Homo sapiens: one gene and its partner. The protein of the gene in region 2 interacts with the protein of the main gene of each other region in a pairwise test. Each region holds a gene or a part of one and is shown on either strand. Other genes may lie near its edges.

Region 1 (3,532 bases), about 41 Mb from region 2:
CTCTTTCTTCTGCCATTCACAATATCAACTTCCGTCCTAAGGCTGATAGCTTGATGGCTACAACAATTCCAGGAGGTAAGCAACTTCCTGAGGAAGAAGAAAAGACAATCTTTTCTGATGACTTTGTCTTATGAATGAGGACACTTTCCTCAGAAGTCCATCTGTAACCTTCCCCTAATGTCACATTGAGTGGAATTTGATCAATGCCTCTTCCTAAACAAGAGAGTACCAAGGGGATAGATTATCCGTAGACCAAAGAGACTCACTCTTGGAAATGGAATTAGCCTCTCTGTGACATGTGACTAAAAGGAGGAGAAAGTCAGTAACCTGCAGTGGCAACTATGCAAAAATGGCATCCTTTTAGTAAAGGGTTATGGTAAGCAACACAGAATATACAAAGCACTGAGGCTACAGCACAAAGAGCACAGTGACACTGACTTAGCAATTATGACCTTTAAAAACCATGTAGTTCTCATCTATTCTTTCTTGCTTTCTCCAGCCCACTCCATAATAGGAATAGATCAGAAATTTTAAAAGAACTAGAAAGATCTGATATACACATGTTGTGCAGGATATCAAATAGTTTTCTCAGTATACACAATAATCCTGTAAAGTAGTTAATGCCAGCTCCCTTTTAAGGATGAAGAAACTGGGTTATAAAGACGTTAAGTACCTTTGCTAAAGTTACACAAATAGTGACAAAGTCTGTATTCAGACTTTGGACTGTCTGGCTCTGAAATCTGGGTACTCCCAACTCTTCTGTACAAACTCCCTTTAGAATGTACTCCCAGGGCTCAGAAACTAGTTACTCTAGTCTAAGCAAGCACTTAACAATCATTAGGCAGTTAATGTAAACTATAGATTCTAATAGTATCATGCACTGCCTCTTGATGGTGGTGGTGGTGGTAGTGACATAGACAACTTTTCTCTCCTAGCATTAAGTTACAGTTCCTCAGACTTCATTACCAATAATATATATATTTTTCAATTTTTAAAGATTTTTTGTAGAAACAAGGTATAACTGCATTGCCCAGGCCAGTCTTGAATTCCTGCACTCAAGTGACCCTCCCACCTTGGCCTCCCAAAGTGCTGGAATCACAGGCATGAGCCATTGTGCATGGCCATTACCAGGAATTTTGATTCAGGAGGTCAAAAGTCTAATTTGCATTGCACATTACAAATTTTTGGGCTGAGATGTCAGGTTCAGGGAGCCCCATAAATTTCCTGTACCTGGGAGTGAAAAGAGCTAATATTTATGGAGCAGCTGGGTTTTCCAGGGCAACCTAATTCCCAGATGTGATGTTCAGCAGAAAAGAAGCAGACAAAAGCAATGTGCACTGCTTTTTTTTTTTTTTTTTTTTTTTTTTAAATAGAGAGGGGGTCTTGCTATGTTGCCTAGGCTGCTCTTGAGCTCCTGGACTTAAGCGATCCTCCCACCTTGGACTCCCAAAGTGCTGAGATTAAAGGTGTGAGCCACCACACCCAGCCCATTTTAAATTTTTTATTTTTTATTTTTCACTGCTCTTTAGCTTCCCTGTTAAAACCCATAGCCAGACTTCCAGTTTCAGTTCCAACATGTAAGAACTTGTAAGTCATTGCTCCTGTACTTACAACCAGAAAAAAATCTGAACAAACAGAATCAACAACATTTCTTAGATTCTTCAAAGAACTGAGGCATAGGACAGTTGACTACCCCAAATTCTGAAGGCAAATCCAGAGAGTCACAGCCTATTTCTTCTTTCATAGAACAGAAACTGCTAGAGACATAAATAGGTAAGAGCACTTAAATGTAATTTTGATGAATTGCTGGAGACTGAGTGTGGAATAATATGAGAGTGAGAAACCCCTGAGGATCTGCAGTCAGGGAGGTCCCCACACTTTTGTGGGCATTACTTCCAAGAAACCCACCATATTCTTGCAGTGAAGGGCCTCATGGCCCCTGCAGTGGGAAGGGAACTGTACTTTTGTGAAATACACCCAGAGCCTTCTTCATTTTTTAAAAAAAAAGCCTATTCTGTGGTGGAAAAGACTTTATCAGAGCCTTATCTCAGCTGAGGGAAAGGCGTTTCTCCTATTTCAGCCCCCTTTAGGTTTCTAGTCTCATGTAAGGGAGAGAAAGGCGCTAAAATAAAACTCTTATGAAAATCAAAGCCCAGGGACACAGGCCCACAAAAGACTGAAATTTAATCATAATATTATAGAACACTTCCTCTCCTCTGCACTTCACCACCATGCTAACAAGGCTTTATTATAATAATAGTGGATAACAGTGAATAACAGTTAAAAGAGCTGCAAAATGTAAACTCTCCCTGAGAAGAATATTTAGGGAAATGCTAGAAATCAAAAATACTGTAACAGAGCCCAGGCACAGTGGCTCACGCCTGTAATCCCAACACTTTGGGAGGCTGAGGTGGGTAGATCACCTGAGGTCAGGAGTTCAAGATCAGCCTGGCCAACATGGAGAAACCCCATCTCTACTAAAAGTACAAAAATTAGCTGGGCGTGGTGGCGGGTGCCTGTAATCCCAGCTACTCAGGAGGCTGAGGCAGGAGAATCGCTTGAACCCGGGAGGTGGAGGTTGCAGTGAGCCGAAATTGTGCCACTGCACTCCAGCAAATGAAGAATGCCTTTGATGGGATTATCAGTAGACTGGACACAGTTGAGGAAAGACTCAGCAAGCTTGAGTAGCAGTCCCCAATCTTTTTTGGCACCAGGGGCAGATTTCGTGGAAGACAATTTTTCCATAGACTGGGGGGCGAATGGCATGGTTTCAGGACAATTGAAGTGCATTACATGTATTATGTACTTTATTTCTATTATTATTACATTGTAATAGATAATGAAATAATTATACAATTCACCATAATGTAGAATCACTGGGAGCCCGGAGATTGTTTTTGTAAAGCTAGATGGTCCCATCTTGGGGTGATGGGAGGCAGTGACAGATCATCAGGCATTAGATTCTCATAAGGAGCATGCAACCTAGATCCTTCACATGTGCAGTTCACAATACGGTTTGTGCTCTTATGAGAATCTAATGCCACTGCTGATCTTCCAGAAGGCGGAGCTCAGGCGGCAATGAAAGTGATGGGGAGTGGCTGTATATACAGATGAAGATTTACTGGCTAGCCCGCCACTCACCTCCTGCTGTGTGACCCAGTTCCTAACAGGCCATGGACGGGTCCAGGTCCGTGGCCTAGGGGCTGGGGACTCCTGAGCTTGAAGATAGGTCAATAGTGTAAACTAAAAAGTATGTAAGACATGTCTCAATTGATTTAGAAGTTTATTTTGCCAAGGTGAAGACATTCCCAGAAGAAAAGAGCATGGAATCACAGAAACAGTCTGTGGTCTGTGCCTTTATCCAAAGATAATTTTGAGGGCTTCAATATTTAAATGGAAACAGCAGGCTAGAGGGGAAGAGGGAGGGTACAGTAATCCACATGATGCAAGGGAAAAGGAGCAGAAACAGGAATAGTCAATTCTGTATTCCTCTGGCTCACAGTAAATCAGCACTTTACATAAGGTAAGGAAA
Region 2 (3,181 bases):
ATGCCAGCTAGAAGGCATGATATCATATGGCCTGATTTCTGTCTGTCTACTGAAGTTGCCTGATAATTCCAACTGGGGCCAGTTCTGGGGACAGCTAGGGTCCCTATTGGATTATGAGCAGCATCTTGTTGGTGGAGGGTGTTCTCATGGACCTGGGCACCCATAAAGATGTGTTCCCTGTCCTCCAGGGTGAGGGTAGAGGAGAGGATGACATATATGTCATGCCAGGTAAGGTCATAAGATTTAGGGAAGTACAAGAATTCCTTGTGGAAGGAGGTTGGATCCATTGAAAAGGAGTCAAGTCTCCTTTCAATATGGGAAAACTCAGCTAGAGAGAAGGGAACTTGAATTCAGATTATGCCTTTAGCCCTCGCAACCTCCTGCAAGGGAAGGACTTTGGAAGGCCTTTGGGCATGTGCCTGGTTCCTAGCGAAAGGGGGTTGGGTGTGAGACCTGGTTTGAGGTGGAGAAGGAAGGGGGATGGAGGGCGACAGTAAGGGGGTGGAGGAGCCGGATCCGAAGGAGAAGGTGGAGGGAATGGGAGAGGGCAGGAGGCTGAAGAACGGGTGTGTTGGCCAGGTTGAAATTCAGAGGAAGAAGACTTGTCCGGAGGAAGAGGCATTTTGGGGGGTTTCTCCTTGAGGAGGAAGATTTGAAAAGGTGAACAAGATTGGCAGAGAGAGAGAGAGAGAGAGAGAGAGAGAGAGAGAGTGAGGCATGAAAGGAGATAAGCAAAGCACTTCAGATTATTTACCATTGCATTGAAGAAAGTTTTTTAGATTATGTTGAATTTGGAAGTTGAATGTTTTGTTTTTTGGAAGAGGGGAGTGAATACTCTGGATGGGAGTGACTACCCCTGAGGAAAGTGAGTACCCTGGAAGGGAGTGAGTACCCCAGGGGTGAGCGAGTACTCCAGAGAGAAGTGAATACCCCATAGGGAAGTGAGTACTTGATTCCTCCTGGGAGAAGGGACCTGGAGAGTTGGGGCAGCCCCGTACTATTCATGCTCCCCAGAGGCCAGAGCAGCCAGAGTGGCAAACGTTTTGAAGGTGTACCCTAAGAAGGGAGGCTGCAGTCACCTGGTGACTGGGGAGACCTCTCACCCAGCACTGGAATTTTTTGGAGAACGGGCAGAAATAGAGAGGAATCTGGAAAGGAGGAAGAGGGAGACTCACCCACTAATTGAAGCCCAGTGTTGGATGTGATGTCCAGAAATGGGGGTGATCCTTGTTGCAGCTGCCCGGAAACAGGAAGGAACAAAAAATAAGGTGGCTTGTTTGATCACTATCTGGAGGTTAGCCCAGGTCTGGAGAAGACTAGAGAATAAGGAGAATGGGACTGGGAACAGGGAGTACACTCAGGATCTGGAAGCAGGCCCTGGTCTAGTTTGTGCTGCTTGCTGCTTTCCAGGTTGCAAGAGAAAACTTACCCATTAGAACCCAATCACCACTCCAGGTTTTGGCACCAAAATGTTAGGTTTTGAAGGGAAGGCAAGGATGAAAGAAAGACACACAGGGGGCAGCTCAAACAGCAACACAGGAATATGGCAGACACCTATGGAAGTGGAGGACAAGCTTAATGCCAGAGCCCACCGCCGCTTACAGGCTGGGGTACTTACAGGGATGGGCAGGAGGGATCTGGGCAATGTGGGATGCTATCCGGCAGGATATTGATAAGATGTTCTTATGATCAGGTGGTTTGGCCCTTTTTCCAGTGGAATATCATTGTGGCGTTCCTTAGAACTTTGCCAAGCAAGATATGATAGGAATGTTTCTTTAGTTGGGCCTTTGTCCGCCCTGTGGTCAGGTGGTTAGGCAGGATGTTTCTCACGGCCTGAGCCCCCATGGAGTGTCTCACTTTGACCAAGGTCTGCAAAATAGCAAAGAACTTGCGAAATCGTGCAGTTTGGACTAACAGATGACCCTACCCATGCTCCTCTTCTTCTTCCCCATAGATCACTACCCTATGATTCCACCTTGTTCTTCTCTGGCACAAACCCCTTCCTCAACCTGCATTCCTTCTCATAAAGCCCCCCTTGCTATCCAGTCTCTACCCTATTCACCCAAAATAATGACTTTCTGGCCTCTCCCTGTTTTCTTATCAGATGCAGGAGGCACCGAACAGGGTCTTAGCCCCCAAACAGAGCTTGCAAAAGACAAAAACAATAGAATATCTAACAATAATAGTGTATTACTACAGGAAGCATACGAAAATAAATTCAAATCAACTGGAGAAGGACCAGTCCCGAGAGAACTCCATCAATCCAGTCCAAGAGGAGGAGGACGAAGGCCTAGACTCAGCTGAAGGATCTTCACAGGAGGACGAAGACCTGGACTCATCTGAAGGATCTTCACAGGAGGACGAAGACCTGGACTCATCTGAAGGATCTTCACAGGAGGACGAAGACCTGGACTCATCTGAAGGATCTTCACAGGAGGACGAAGACCTGGACTCATCTGAAGGATCTTCACAGGAGGACGAAGACCTGGACCCACCTGAAGGATCTTCACAGGAGGACGAAGACCTAGACTCATCTGAAGGATCTTCACAGGAGGGTGGGGAGGACTAGTCAAACATGGAGAAACCAAATTGGACAAATCCTCACTACCAATGGCGATGATTACAATAAAATCAAGTTTGAGGAGCTGATGACCGTGTATATCTCTGCCTGTTGTCTGATGGTGGGAAGGAAGGGAAGGGAAGAGGTAGGCATTTGAGAAGGGAAGGATATGAGATCCTGTAGGGTTGGCGGACAGACCCACAGGTTGACAGTTTCCCAGACATTGTAAATAAGGCCTGGGGGAGGACTTATTCCTAGAGACAAATTTTCTTCTTAAAATTTTATCTAACAGGAGAGGAAGAAAAGGACTTGGTGTTTGGAGCATGTGAATATGTAGAAGGGCATTTAAAAAGATCTGTATTGGCCGGGCACGGTGGCTCATGCCTATAATCCCAGCACTTTGGGAGGCCGAAGCAGACGATCTCCTGAGGTCAGGAGTTCGAGACCAGCCTGTCCAACATGGCAAACCCCAGTCTCTACTAAAAAAAAAAAATACAAAAATTAGCTGGGAGTGGTGGCAGGTGCCTGTAATCCCAGCTACATGCGAGGCTGAGGCAGGAGAATCACTTGAACACAGGAGGCGGAAGTTGTAGTGAGCTGAGATCTGGCCACTGCACTCCA

The links.
Region 1: the proteins of SPANXN2 (region 2) and GPRASP3 interact in binary tests that used the Homo sapiens proteins (3 or more experiments, as listed by UniProt).

Annotation. Positions count from the first base shown.
Region 1 is NC_000023.11:102,727,229-102,730,760, forward strand, and holds part of GPRASP3 (G protein-coupled receptor associated sorting protein 3), read left to right. Parts: intron 1-3,532. UniProt on the Homo sapiens protein: Survival and differentiation promoting protein that plays a role in the regulation of neurosynaptogenesis. Induces phosphatase PP2A activity which results in APP dephosphorylation and inhibits BACE1-mediated processing of APP.
Region 2 is NC_000023.11:143,711,423-143,714,603, reverse strand, and holds the end of SPANXN2 (sperm protein associated with the nucleus on the X chromosome N2), read left to right. Parts: intron 1-2,104; coding exon 2,105-2,569; 3' UTR 2,570-2,649; downstream 2,650-3,181.